Homo sapiens: one gene and its partners. The protein of the gene in region 4 purifies or fractionates together with the protein of the main gene of each other region. This does not show direct contact. Each region holds a gene or a part of one and is shown on either strand. Other genes may lie near its edges.

Region 1 (3,500 bases), on a different chromosome or scaffold from region 4:
TAAGTCACCACTGGTGCCTATATTCCAAATGCCATGGATACTAACTCAATTCCGGAGTCCAAAGAACAGATACTACGGTAACAAACTTTCCTTCCAGTTACAATGTGGCATGCTATAATACAAAAGGATATTTCCACAGAGGGAAGAAGAGAATGTTTAACCATTCCTTCAAAAATTACTGAATACAGGCCGGGCATAGTGGCTCACGCCTGTAATCCCAACACTTTGTGAGGCTGAGGTGGGTGGATCACTTGAGGTCAGGAGTTCGAGACCAGCCTGGCCAACACAGTGAAACCCGTCTGTACTAAAAAATACATAATATAGGCCGGGCGCGGTGGCTTACGCCTGTAATCCCAGCACTCTGGGAGGCCGAGGCAGGCAGATCACGAGGTCAGGAGATTGAAACCATCCTGGCTAACATGGTGAAACCCCGTCTCTACTAAAAATACAAAAAATTAGCCGGGTGTGGTGGTGGGCGCCTGTAGTCCCAGCTACTCGGGAGGCTGAGGCAGGAGAATGGCGTGAACCTGGGAGGCGGAGCTTGCAGTGAGCTGAGATCGCACCACTGCACTCTAGCCTGGGCGACAGAGCGAGACTCCATCTCAAAAAACAAACAAACAAACAAACAAACAAACAAACAAAATATATATATATATATAATATATATAAATTAGCCGGGCATGGTGGCGCATGCTGGTAATCCCAGCTACTCAGGAGGCTGAGGCACAAGGATCGCTTGAACCCGGGAGGCGGAGGTTGCAGTAGGCAGAGATCATGCTGCTGTACTCCAGCCTGGGTGACAGAGTGAGACCCCATCTCAAACAATAACAAAAAATTACTCCAGTACTTTGGGAGGCCGAGGCAGGCGGACTGCCTGAGCTCAGGAGTTTGCAACCAGCCTGGGCAACACAGTGAAACCCCATCTCTACTAAAATACAAAAAAATTAGCTGGGCATGAGGGCATGCACCTGCAGTCCCAGCTACTTGGGAGGCTGAGGCAGGAGAATTGCTTGAACCCGGGAGGCGGAGGTTGCAGTGACCTGAGATCGCGCCATTGCACTCCAGCCTAGGGGACAAGAGCGAGACTTCGTCTCAAAAAAAAAAAAAAAAATTACCTATACACTGCCTCCTCCCACTTTTTTGGGAGTTTTCAATCTGAGCTTTCAAAAGATTGATTACATACAGGAAAGATTTGAATAAATCAATAAATACATTAAGGGTGAGGGGTCAGGTTTCTATCAGAGAAAGGAGTTAACAAATATGGCAAGGCAAAAGAGTAGAACAAACCCTGTGGTATTAGAATAGATTAGAATAACTGGTGTGGGCTTTTAATATATAAAGAAAAAGATATATGCATGTTTATGTGTATATATAGACATATATATATTTCCTACCCACGTCCTGGTAGGGCCTGCAGATGACACTCCAGTAGCAATAAGCACATGTAGCACCCAGATGTGGTTTCTAAATAGCAACAACCACTAAAGGAACTAGTCTCCTCAGGAGACAAGTTGACTCCAGAATGGGGATGATGTTCATCAAAGCCTTACAAAGAACTGGCATTATTCCCAGACATCCCATTACTGGGTATATGCCCGAAGGATTATAAATCATGCTGCTATAAAGACACACACACACGTATGTTTACTGAGGCACTATTCACAATAGCAAAGACTTGGAACCAACCCAAATGCCCAACAATGATAGACTGGATTAAGAAAATGTGGCACATATACACCATGGAATACTATGCAGCCATAAAAAAGGATGAGTTCATATCCTTTGTAGGGACATGGATGAAGCTGGAAACCATCATTCTCAGCAAACTATCACAAGGACAGAAAACCAAACACTGCATGTTCTCACTCAGAGGTGGGAATTGAACAATGAGAACACTTGGACACAGGAAGGGGAACATCACACACCAGGGCCTGTCGTGGGGTGGGGGGAGCGGGGAGGGATAGCATTAAGAGATATACCTAGGCCGGGCGTGGTGGCTCATGCCTGTAATCCAAGCACTTTGGGAGGCCGAGGAGGGCGGATCACAAGGTCAGGAGATCGAGACCATCCTGGCTAACATGGTGAAACCCCATCTCTACTAAAAATACAAAAAATTAGCCAGGCGTGGCCGGGCGCAGTGGCTCACGCTTGTAATCCCAGCACTTTGGGAAGCCGAGGCGGGCGGATCACGAGGTCAGGAGATCGAGACCACGGTGAAATGCCGTCTCTACTAAAAATACAAAAAATTAGCCAGGCGTGGTGGCGGGTGCCTGTAGTCCCAGCTACTCGGAGAGGCTGAGGCAGGAGAATGGCGTGAACCCAGGAGGCGGAGTTTGCAGTGAGCCGAGATTGCACCACTGCACTCCAGCCTGGGTGACAGAGCGAGACTCCGTCTCAAAAAAAAAAAAAAAACAAAATTAGCCGGGCATGGTGGCAGGCGCCTGTAGTCCCAGCTACTCGGGAGGCTGAGGCAGGAGAATGGCGTGAACCCGGGAGGTGGAGCTTGCAGTGAGCTGAGATTGCGCCAGTGCACTCCAGCCTGGGTGACAAAGCAAGACTCCATCTCAAAAAAAAAAGAGATATACCTAATGTAAATGATGAGTTAATGGGTGCAGCACACCATCATGGCACATGTATACATATGTAACAAACCTGCACGTTGTGCACATGTACCCTAGAACTTAAAGTATAAAAAAAAAAGAAGCTTGACTCTGAAAAAAAAAAAAAAAAAGAACTGGCATTATTCAACCTGTCTGACAGTTCCTTAGAAGGCCCTATTTCAAGGCTGTCTTAGAACTCACCCAGTGTGAAAAAACCTTTTCCCCAGGAGCACCGGTTGAAAACAAATAGAGGTAACTGTTTGACTTCATGGCTTCCTGAGGCAGTGATTAACAGGTGGAGAAAACAACAGGCTAACCAAAAAGGTTTAAAGGAAAAGCTGGGGAATAAGATGTCCACAGAGGCTTAGAAAAGCCCCAATATATTCCTGGGCATCTAGGAAGCCATGAACATACCCAGGTCTGTGCATATACCCAAAGCTGTGCACATGCTCAGGAAAGACCTAAGAATGTCTCTTACTTGTGGTTGACCTTGAGGTTCTGCATAGCAGGAAGTGAAAGTTAAGGCAGAGTTATCGAATGCCTGGCAGAGTGTTATAGGTACATCCCAACGTGCACACAGAGCCCCAAAGCAAAAACTGGGATACTCACTGCTTCCAGGCAGTGAGAACAGAATTTTAAGAAATTTAACAGAAATTTAAAGAAATTTGTTTAATCATTACCTGACCACTAAGCTATCTAAGCAGAGACTTCAGTAGCCACAAACAACAAAGAATACAGACTACAGAATCAATTCAGAAAAGTCACTAAACAAAAATACAACAGCAAACCCTGGGAAGGGAAACAATCTGATTTCCGGAGTGGCCACATTATTTAAAATGTCCAGTTTTCAACAACAAAAAGTTATAAAACATGCAAAGAAACAATAAAGTATGGCCCATA
Region 2 (3,500 bases), on a different chromosome or scaffold from region 4:
GATAAGGGAAACACAGTTAACATAGTTACTCAGAAGTCCCAACAGATTTTTCTTATTTCTTTACCTCTTCAACCATTTTAGCACTATTCCTAATGGAAAACATCTTAGCAATTCTGACAAAAGATTTGAGAAAGCATGGACTGAATGAGGCCTGAGTGAGATTCTTGGCTACCAACCATCTGGGATTATCTCAAAACTTCACCTGCCAGTGCTCTTTTCTCACTTGCAACTATAATCATGAGTTGGACATACTTAAATCTGTGAAAAAACAACAAACTCTATTTTTCACCTTCTCACATACATGTAAAACATATTTTGGTAAATAAATTCCTTACTTTTGTAGCACATTTTCCTTCGTTTAAAATTTAAGACGGTAAAATTTTTTGAAGAATTTACTGTCAAGTTGAGCTGCATTAGTATCATAACTTCAGAATCTACTTTGCCAGTACAGGAAAGCTCTACCCGAAACACTGTTTAAAAAAGATAAGAAAAATATTTTACATTTTCTAAAAATCAACATTAATGCCCCAAAATGATTCTTTTAAACATTTTAGAATTACTTATTTTTGCTGCAAGAAAACTAAAAGTAATACATTTAAATAAAGTAACTAAACAAAAGTTTTTAGAGATCTTCAGACTACCACACCTCTAGACATTAAGCATTTAATTCATTATGGATATAAAAGTTAGTATTAAAGAACAAACCAAGACATCAATGAAGAGATAATTGTTTTCAACTTCTGCTCATTGTTTTTAATACACCACTTTGTCTCATAAGTCCTGCTATTCCAGTACACTAAAACTGAAGGATCATAAGGCAAACCTTAACAGACACATCAGCAATAGTAACAACAGAAATTACATGATCAAATGGAAAGACAACTCACTACCAAAATGCAAGTATGTCTGCTCTTAATAAAAAGATTAAATATAAACCTGTAAATGAATCTGATAAATTGTCAGCTATCACCTTTCTCAACAGAAATTGATTTTAATCCATAATTGTAACAATGGGATAACAGACTTCAGTGCATATAATTTTTTTCCCCAATCTTTAAGATTCTTTTCCTACAAATTTAAAACCTATCATTCTACCATCTGTATGACTGCATTAAAGATATGGGCATTTCTAAATTCCTTTACTGCCCATAAAAATTTAAGCAGCCCTCCTGTGCTTTATTTAAGCTTAATGTATGTCACTGATAACAGTGAATATGACTGCCAGAAAAAGTTTCACAACACTATTGTGGCTGATACTTTCAATTTTTAAAAATATCCATTTCTTACAAATACCACAACTTCAAGAGCCTAAGAAGTTAGCTCAAAAGCAGTTAAATTGGTGTAAATAATACACTTATTCATTTACTCAGACTGTACTGAGTGCCTATCCTGCACCATACTCTATGCTATGCATCAAGGGAATTGCTAGATATGTAATCAGTGCAAAAACAGTTAAATATAAGGTTCTAAGGGGTAGGAAGAATAGAAGTTAACAAATGAAAGAAGAGAAGGTGGCAGAAAAAAGACAGTGCAGATCTTGAGTCTTGCAGAATGAGTAGGATGAATAGAAAGGAGTTCACGAGCAGAAAGAGGAAAAGATGATCCCAAATACTGAGACCAGCACATGCAAAGGCTTGAAGATCAGAACTGCATGTAGTCTGGAACTGCTACAACTCTGGGGCAAGTGCAGCAACAAGGCTAGACAGGCAGGCAGGGGCAGATGGTAAAGGATCCAGGACACAAGGTGGTGAGTCTGGAATGTTCAGTTGATGGGAGTGGAGAGCACTGATGGGCTTCACGTCACAGGGTCAAACATGACCGTGCAAAGATCATCTGGGCCACAGGGTGAAATGTGGTGCCTAATCAAAGGGAAACAAGATCAGGCACAGGGACTCATGTGGAGGTAAGTACCAGCAATGCAGAAAAAGAGACAGGGAGGGCGGAGCACAGAGAGTTCCAGAAGGACAGAAAAGAGAGAATGGTTTAAGAACACAGTGCAAATATTTACAAAAATTACTTTTCACAGTACTCATACATCTTATGCCTATCAAGTAATACACACTACACATCAGTAAACTTCTGTTTTGGGGCCATAGGGGATGCAGTTGAAAAAGTATGTTAACTCTGTCTTTGAAGACTCTTACTTACCTGATAAAGTGCGTGGAACTTCCCCCTGAACAGAAATGTTGACCTGGGGCATATCCATTGCCAAAACATTGTCCACTTGGAATCCCAGCTTATATTCAACCTGTAAAATAGACAAAAATAAACAAAATGGACCTGTGATAACAAGAAGGATACTATCAGCTTGACTTCATTAATTGGCTCATTAATCAATGGATGAGCCTTTCATATGTACAAATAATCTAGCTATAAAAAAATGCAAATTGTCAGAAACAGTCCTAAGAATTTTCAATTGGATAAAAATTCAACCAAGTAAGCCACCCTCTATTTTAAGTCCACAACAGGACCACCACTCTTCCATAAAACCTGCCATCTAGGGTCAGAAATCCTGCTGAGAACTATGCAGCACTGACAGAGAGGCCATGGAGAGCCAGATATGAAGAACCAAAGCGGTGAGATATGTAACTGACAGACCATAAATAGCTACCAATGCCTTCTCTGGTTGATAAATGAAAGCCAAGCTCGGAGGGCCTCCTTGTGGCTGGTGGAGGAAGGTCTGCTCTGCAGACCCACTCACACAATAAGCAGATTCCAAGGTAGATTTCTCATAGAATATCTAAGTCACATCCTCTAGTCTTGCTCTCACCAAAAAGAAAGTTCATGTTTAGATCCCCATTTGACCTCTGGATCTACTTCTTAAGTGATTCAGAATCCAGAAGGGAAGACAGGCAACCCATGAGATGTCTCTAAAACACCAATGTTATCTATCAATACTTGGCCTACCCAATGTGGCTTAACAGAACCAATCAGCATCAATAATTAAGGCTCTGTTGCTATGGAGAGTTCATGAAAGAAGCAGCTCAAACTGCAAAGCAATAGCTGAAATTCAGAATGGCTGCCAGCATCAAGACTTTCAATGAAGCCCTACAGTTCACATCACTCTCTGCCCTGCCCACAGGTTCTTGATAACTATGGTATCCCTCTCTCATTCAGTGGTCACAAAAGGTATCATTGGTGGCAGACTGAGATTTGCAGAGCCACGAGGCAGCAGGTTGGGAAAAGAGTGAGAAGAAAGATGTTCGATAAACCATTCTTCAAGAAACTTAACTAGAAGAATGGGAGACAGATGGTGAAGTGGGGGGTGTTCCAAAGCTTTTCTTTGTTTTTAGATGAGATATTCAAATATGTATATATGCTAGTGAAAAAAGCTAACGAAATGGTACATAATAAAGATGAAAGAAAAGAGGGAAAGAGTATCATCCCAGATATAAGGGAAGGGATGGCCCTTACGCTTGGGCTAAGGTGGAAGGCGTTGTTACCCATGAATAAGAAGGGCTCAGTCCAGAATTTGATTCCCCTTGGGGTTTCTCCTTTCA
Region 3 (4,281 bases), on a different chromosome or scaffold from region 4:
ATAACCGTTTTAACCCAGGAGGCAGAGGAATGCAGTGAGCCAAGGTTATGACACCGCACTCCAGCCTGGGCGAGAGAGCGAGACTCCACCTCAAAAAAAAAAGATTCTGTTGGGCGTGGTGGCTCACGCCTGCAATCCCAGCACTTTGGGAGGCCGAGGCAAGCGGATCACGAGGTCAGGAGATCGAGACTATCCTGGCTAACATGGTGAAACCCCGTCTCTACTAAAAGTACAAAAAATTAGCCGGGCGTGGCAGCGGGCACCTGTAATCCCAGCTACTTGGGAGGCTGAGGCAGGAGAATGGCGTGAACCCGGGAGGCGGAGCTTGCAGTGAGCAGAGATCGTGCCACTGCACTCCAGCCTGGGCCACTGAGCGAGACTCCGTCTCAAAAAAAAAAAAAAAAAAAAAAAAAAAAAAAAAGGATTCTGACGGGGGGGCCAAGGGCGGTGGCTCACGGCTGTAATTCCAGCACTCCGGGAGACAGAGGTGAGTGGATCACTTGAGGTCACTAGTGTGAGACCAGCCTGGCCGACATGGTGAAACCCCTTTCTGCCAACTACATAAAAAAAAATTAGCCAGGTGTGGTGGCACATGCCTGCAATCCCAGCTACTAGGGAGACTGAGGCAGGAGAATTGTTTGAACCCTGAAGGCAGAGGTTGCAGTGAGCCGAGTTCATACCACTACACTCCAGCCTGGGCAACACAGCAAGACTCCGCCTCAAAAAAAAAAAAAAAAAAAAAAAAGATTCTGAAGGGGCCAGGCACAATGGCTCATGCCTGTAATCCCACCACTTCGGGAAGCGGAGGCCAGAAGATTGCTTGAGGCCAGTAGCTGCCTCCCAACATGGTGAGACCCCCGCCTCTCAACAAAAAAATTAAAAAAAAAAAAATTAGCTGCTGTAGTGGTGCACATCTGTAGTCCCAGCTACTCCGGAGGCTGAAGTGGGACGATCGCTTGAGCCCAGGAGTTCAAGCTGCAGTGAGCTATGACCACGTCACTGCACTTCAGCTTGAGCAACAGAGTGGGACCCTGTCTCAAAAATTTAAAAATAGCATAAATATTCCAAACGCAATTATATGGAATAAGTTGGAATGGAAGATAAAAAGCAGAAGCCAGAGAAAAAAAGTAAAGTCGTCTCCCATCGGAAAAATTTTGGAAACAACTTCTTTAAAAGATGAGAGAAAATGTTCCCTTGCTTGCAAAATTAATGTCCCACTCAAGTCACCAGTAGGAAATTCTGCTATCTTCTGTGCAACGATGATAGCTTTCCCTACGCTTATGAAAATCAATTCTGATTGCTAGAAAATATGGTGGAAAATAGAATCCCTCTGTACTGTCAGCTCGCAGAATTATCTGAAAGTGTTAAGTCAATTCCTGCTAGGGCACTCCGGATGACAGTTCTCTGCACCCTTCTGGATGACTCTTTAGAAACCATATTCCATCCCTAATTCTGGCTGTCTAGAATATATGAAACATTTAACTCAACATAAAATGATAATAGCCAACTTTCAAAGGTCAAAGGGGACCAGTTTATAACCTTCCCTCAACACGTGTTCAGTACAAACTTCCGGGTGCACTTACAATTGGCTGCGCAATTCAATGGATAAAAACGTTGCTTTATTTGTCTCTCATTTTCTGGCCCGTTCTTTTCCCACGTTTCTCAACCAGCGACTCCCCAAAACAAAAGCCTCCCACAGTAAACCGAGCACGCACATAAAAAGAGCTTCTCTGTGCGAGGATCAAGTTAGTGGTCCGCAAACATTAACCAAACAGAAGCACAAAGCAGGGGTGGGAAGGGGAGGAGCTGGATGCCAGGGTCAGGAAAGAAACAATCAGAAGGGTTTAGGAACATCCAAATCTCCTCAGCGGTTAAACCGACCCCAAACCACTTCTGGGAAACCACCGGTATCCACTGCTTTGGGGAACTCTGGATGCTCGTTATGCCAAACGCTCTCAAAGTAAGCAAATCCCCAACTGCCGTTCCCCTCCATGGGTAATTCTTAGGGTCTGGGAGGTGAGCTCGCCCGCCGAGGCAGAACTAAGCGAGTCGCCTGGAGAGGCGTGAAGGGAGCCTGCACGTGTCCCCCGCGGCTTCCCCACCGCCCCAAGAGCGGGGCATGTACGAGACCGCGCTGTGGGGTTCAGATTTAGGAAGGACGACCGCGTCGCCTGCCTCCCTCCCTCGCCCAGAGCCGGGAGCAATGCTGGGGCACGAAAGAGGACTTGGGAAGGATCCGGTCCTTACTTTCCCCGCGGGTCCCGGACCCGCAGCCCCCGGGTTGTGAGGCGGAAGCCAAAGGGGCGAACCCAGCGGAGCCGGCGTGCACAGACCCTGCCCCGCGGTCCAAGAGGGGTGCCTCCGGCCCGGGACAGCGGGGCTCCCGGAGCCCGAAAGCCCCACGAGCGGCGACAGCGGGGCCCGGCGCTGACGAACAGAGGAAGCGAGTACAACGGAGCCGCCGTCGGGAACATGCCCCCGAGGGCCCCGGAGCGCGCGGCCGCGAGGAGCGGCAAGCGGCGAGGGAGGCCCCAAGCCGGGGCGAGGTGGCTGTCCCCCCAGCCTGGCCCCGCACGGCCCCCCGAGGGTGGGAGTGGGAGGCTGTCCGGGAGGGGGAGTGTGGAAGGAGAAAAGGGCCAAGGGAAGGACTTACTTTCCCCGCGGGACCCGGCGCCAGCACAGCTCCTCCCGGGAGGTGTGAGTTTGAAGGACCAGAGGCGACTGGAGCGGAGGCGGCGGTGGCGGCGGCAGCAGCGGCGTCCTGCTCTGCCTACCTCCCCGCCGCCATCTTGACGCCCCTCCCCCAGCCCCCCCGCCCCGCCGGGAGGGGCGGGGGAGGGGCAACGGATGAGGCGCCGCGCGCACGCAGCGCCCTCACGTGACTTCCTCCCTCCTCCCCCACCCGCCTCTCTGCGCCCCTCTCCGCCCCGCCTCCCTCCTAGGTGAAGGAAGATGATTTCCCCCCCATCTTGACCACCCCCCAGTCTTCGCCGCCAAAAACGGACTCCGCCGGCTATCCTCGGCCCGGTACCAGTTGTTGGATCCAAGAGAATTCCGGAACCCAAACGGTCCATTACCGCGGCTCTGGGGTGGGCGAGGGGTGAGGGGGCCGGGTTTCCGCGAAGGGGGAGGGGGAAGGCGAAGGCCACCTAGGAGAGTCACGTGACTACTGTTTCCGCCGGCGCTCACGGAGAGCTCGCGGTAATTCCGTTTCCCCGCCCTTTTTTCCCCGCGGCCTGTCGGGAAGAAGGTCCGCGTGCCAGGGCTATCGGGAGGTCGGCCGGAGGGCCGCGCGCATGCGCCCCGCGCCTGCTTTCAAACTCCGGTTAGGAAGGGCCTGGAGCTATTTTCAGAACCTGTTAGGGTGGGGAGCTACGGCCCAGGAAGTTACCTAGCAGCGTTTCTGTCACTTGGAAGATCTCTTCATTACCTAGTTAGTCCTAGAAACAAAATGTTTACATATTCATTGCTTGTTAGGCTCGCTCAAAGCACTTTATTGGCAGTGAAACCGCAAGTAACCCGGAGCCCTCGGCGCGACCACGGCTAGAATCAGAGCCTAAGGCGTGTGAGCTCAGCCATCCCACGTCTGTCTTCACGCTCATACGCAAGCCCGACACACCGGGGCTCCCACTTAATGAATACTGAAGAGTAGGGCTGTCCCTACCGCTTCTCACTTCCTTGTTTTCATCTTTTCGTTATTATTAAGCGACCTAACACAATAAACATATTACCTTGTTGGTAACCCTTTTGTAAAGTCATTCTGAAAGTGCTGTTTGACTCCGTTGCTTGGGTAATAAGCACGCCTGGGTGATTCTTGCCCCCTACTGGCTGCGCATCCTACAAGCCTAGTGCTGAAAGCAAACCAAGTAGCTGGAACAGTTGGAGGTTACAGTGTGAACTCTTCCAGAGACAAAGTATTCGGGGAAAGAAAGGAAAAAGTAGGCACAGAAAGAATAGGAAACTTCAGTGTTTGTACACATAGATATGTATTATATATCTATGTATACATTTATAAATATTTTTAAAGTGCTAACTAATCGCTTTACTAATTACATTATTTCATTTAATCCTCTCACACACATAGAAAAAAAACCTATAAAGACAAAAATAAAAAATATTTTAGGCCGGGCGCAGTGGCTCACGCCTGTAATCCCAGCACTTCGGGAGGCCGAGGTGGGCGGACCACCTGAGGTCAGGAGTTCGAGACCAGCCTGGCCAACATGGTGAAACCCCATCTCTGCTAAAAATACAAAATTTAGCTGGGGCTTGGTGGCGGGCACC
Region 4 (3,500 bases):
AGGCGTGGTGGCAGGCGCCTGTAGTCCCACCTACTCGGGAGGCTGAGGCAGGAGAATTGTGTGAACCCGGGAGGCAGAGCTTGCAGTGAGCCGAGATGGTGCCACTGCACTCCAGCCTGAGTGACAGAGCAAGATCCATCTCAAAAAAAAAATTTTTTTTTGATGAGTGAATCAGTGATTAATGAATTTGTGTTTATGGCTCATAGTTTCAACCCTTACTGGGTTGGAGACAACACTATGTTTTAGGCCTCATTAAAAACCCAGTAGTACAATTGCTTGCATGGAGTAGGTACTCCGTAGTGCCTATTGATCTGGCCTAACTGAAGATGATACAGTTTTATAATCTACCAAGATAGTTTTATTACCAGACTGTGTAATTACCCTAACAAATTGCAGGAAGGTCGTGCACAAAAAACATATGAACTGATGGGCTTATTGCTGAGTGCAGCAGGAGTCTGACCACTAGAGAATACCATCAGCTGTGTTCCTGCCCTCACATATCCATCGTATTCCAGTACCATGTTTGCAGGGATTTTCCCCCTCCTTCTTCCTTTTCCTTTCACAAGGAATATACTCAGTTTATGTCCAAAGATCATTGGGATTTTTTTTTTCTTGAGACAGGGTCTCTCTCTGTCACCCAGGCTGCAGTGCAGTGGTGCAATCACAGCTCACTGCAGCCTTGAACTCCTGGGCTGAGGCAATCCTCCCAACTCAGCCTCCTGAGTAGTTGGCACTATAGGCACGCCACCACGCTCAGCTACATATATATATTTTTTAACTTTTTGTAGACACACAGTCTCCACATAGTTCCCAGGCTGGTCTCAAACTCCTGGGCTCAGGTGATCCTCCCGCCTCAGCCTCACAAAGTGCTGGGATTACACCTGTGAGACAGCGCACCTGGCCAAGATAATTGGTTCTAACCTGGAGTCCGTAGCATTCTCTAAAACCTTATGCAGAAATTTGTATACGTAGTTTTATGAGCATTTCTCTGGAGAAGATATTCATTGCTATCATTGGATTATTAAGACAGTTATAACCTAAAAAGCTAAGAATCACTGAGCTACAGCAATGTCACCCAGTAGAACTTTCTGTGATGATGGGAATGGTCTACATCTGTGTTGTCCAATGTGGCAGCCACCAGCTACAGGTGTGGCTATCAAAGCCTTGAAATGTAACTGAGACTGTGGAGGGAAATTTTTTATTTCATCTAATTTTAATTGACTTGATTTTAATTATGGCACGTGCTTGTAATCCAAGCTATTCAGGATGCTGAGGTGGGAGGATCTCTTAAGAACAGGAGTTTGAGGCTGCAATGGGCTTTGATTGCCTGTGAGTAGCCTCTGCACTCCAGCCTGGGTGACATAGGCTATTAAATAAATAAACGTTGGCCAGGAGCAGTGGCACACGCCTGTAATCCCAGCACTTTGGGAGGCTGAGGTGGGTGGATCACCTGAGGTCAGGAGTTAAGACCAGCCTGGTCAACATGGTGAAACCCCATCTCTATTAAAAATACAAAAATTAGCTGGGCATGGTGGTGCATGCCTGTAATCCTAGCTACTCGGGAGGCTGAGGTGGGAGAATTGCTTGAACTCGAAAGGCGGAGGTTGAAGTGAGCTGAGATCGCACCACTGCACTCCAGCCTGGGTGACAGGGCGAGACTCCATCTCAAAAAAAGAAAAAAAGAAATAAAATAAAACAAAATAAACAAATAAGTTTAAACAGTACCGTACTGGATAGCATAGACATAGAGGACCACTCAAGAGTTATCAGGAAGTCAGGGTCCCTACGCTTTGAAGACTCCAGGTATAACATACATGTGTTACCTAGAAGCCTTCTCTCCTCCCACAGGAGTCCATTATCAAGGTCACCTTCACGGATGAGGCCCTTAATGCTAGGCAGTAACAGGCTTGGGGTAGGAAAATGGGACAGAAAAACACAGAAGTAGTGAGATGTGGCTAGGCAGGAAGAGTGCTAGCGGATGGGGCCCCTGACACTAAGGAAGCGGTGGGAAAGGCGTGAGGCTTTGAAGACCCTCTCCAAGGGGCCCAAGGCTTCAGAAAAAAAAAAAAAAAAAAAAAGCGATTTTTGCCCACACAATGGGAATCACAGAATAAAGTTTCTAGAAAAGACCTCCACAATTATTGTTGAGATATAAGACTTTTGCCTAAAGATATAAGACTATTATCTGACATGGTCGAAAGTCTTTGAAAGAGAAGGTGAAACGGAATGATTAAGAATAGAGAACTCACTGGGCATGGTGGCTTACATCTGTAATCCCAGCATTTTGGGAGGCTGAGGCAGGCGGATCACCTGAGGTCAGGAGTTCGAGACCAGCCTGACCAACATGGTGAAACCTCGTCTCAAGTAAAAATACAAAAATTAGCCAGGCGTGGTGATGGGTGCCTGTAATCCCAGCTACTTGGGAGGCTGAGGCAGGAGAATGCCTTGAACCCAGGAGGTGGAGTTTGCAGTGGACCATGATTTCACCACTGTACTCCAGCCTGGGCAACTGAGTGAGACTCTGTTTCAAAAAAAAAAAAAAGAATAGAGATCTCAAAAATTAAAAAATTAAAAGATACTTCCTGTTGACCAGGTCTAAAAATAAATAAAAAATAAAAAAAGAATAAAGCTCGCAGTAACATACTTTCCAGGTTCTTAAGTGTTCACAAGGATCATGGAGAGCCCCTCATAGAACCAGAAAGCACCCTATAAATTATAGGGGCTCCAAGGAACAGGCACTCTACTTACCGACAATCGTGAAGCTGAAGTCACGACTGTATTTTGAACAGCTGGTAACTTGGGCTTTGCATTTGTAGGGGCCTGATTCATGGGCTTCTGTGATGCTTAGGTTAAAAATCGCAGGTTCACCTTTTCCATCCTGGGTTCCCAGGTGTGTCTTACGTCGAAACAATGAATAGGTGATCTGCAGTGATTTGTTCTTATGGGAACAAAACATAGATACATTTTGACCCTTCATAACCACCTTAGTCTTTGAGTCCAAACATGGAGAAGGGAATTCTGAAAAACAAAATGACACAAGAAAAAGTCCTTCTTAAGATCCTGGCCGGGCAAGGTGGTTCACGCCTGTAATCCCAGCACTTTGGGCGGCCGAGGCAGGTGGATCACTTGAGGCCATGAGTTTGATACCAGTCTGGGCAACATGGCAAAACCCTGTCTCTACTAAAAATACAAAAATTAGCTGGCATGGTGGTGGGCACCTGTAATCCCAGCTACTCAGGAGGCTGAGGCAGGAGAATTGCTTGAACTAGGGAGGCGGAGGTTGCAGTGAGCCAAGATCATGCCACTGCACTCCAGGCTGGGTGACAGAGTGAGACTACCTCAAAAAATAAAAATAATAATAAATAAAAAGTTCTTGAAGTTGGGTGTGGTGGTTGACGCCTATAATCCTAGCACTTTGGGAGGCTGTGGTGGGAGGGTCACTTGAGGTCAGGAGTTCGAGAACAGCCTGGGCAACAAGTGAGACCTCGTCTCTAATTTTT

Evidence for each region.
Region 1: the proteins of MILR1 (region 4) and UQCC1 purify together in Homo sapiens (affinity purification with mass spectrometry; one large-scale study listed by BioGRID and IntAct). This does not show direct contact.
Region 2: the proteins of MILR1 (region 4) and RYK purify together in Homo sapiens (affinity purification with mass spectrometry; 2 studies listed by BioGRID and IntAct, with this or other methods). This does not show direct contact.
Region 3: the proteins of MILR1 (region 4) and SBNO1 purify together in Homo sapiens (affinity purification with mass spectrometry; one large-scale study listed by BioGRID and IntAct). This does not show direct contact.

What each region holds. Positions count from the first base shown.
Region 1 is NC_000020.11:35,401,974-35,405,473, forward strand, and holds part of UQCC1 (ubiquinol-cytochrome c reductase complex assembly factor 1), read right to left. Parts: intron 1-3,500. UniProt on the Homo sapiens protein: Required for the assembly of the ubiquinol-cytochrome c reductase complex (mitochondrial respiratory chain complex III or cytochrome b-c1 complex). Involved in cytochrome b translation and/or stability.
Region 2 is NC_000003.12:134,209,360-134,212,859, forward strand, and holds part of RYK (tyrosine-protein kinase RYK isoform 2 precursor), read right to left. Parts: intron 2,249-3,500; coding exon 2,149-2,248; intron 471-2,148; coding exon 336-470; intron 1-335. UniProt on the Homo sapiens protein: May be a coreceptor along with FZD8 of Wnt proteins, such as WNT1, WNT3, WNT3A and WNT5A. Involved in neuron differentiation, axon guidance, corpus callosum establishment and neurite outgrowth.
Region 3 is NC_000012.12:123,362,048-123,366,328, forward strand, and holds the start of SBNO1 (protein strawberry notch homolog 1), read right to left. Parts: upstream 2,801-4,281; 5' UTR 2,654-2,800; intron 1-2,653. UniProt on the Homo sapiens protein: Plays a crucial role in the regulation of neural stem cells (NSCs) proliferation. Enhances the phosphorylation of GSK3B through the PI3K-Akt signaling pathway, thereby upregulating the Wnt/beta-catenin signaling pathway and promoting the proliferation of NSCs.
Region 4 is NC_000017.11:64,452,115-64,455,614, reverse strand, and holds part of MILR1 (allergin-1 isoform Allergin-1L precursor), read right to left. Parts: intron 3,019-3,500; coding exon 2,749-3,018; intron 1-2,748. UniProt on the Homo sapiens protein: Immunoglobulin-like receptor which plays an inhibitory role in degranulation of mast cells. Negatively regulates IgE-mediated mast cell activation and suppresses the type I immediate hypersensitivity reaction.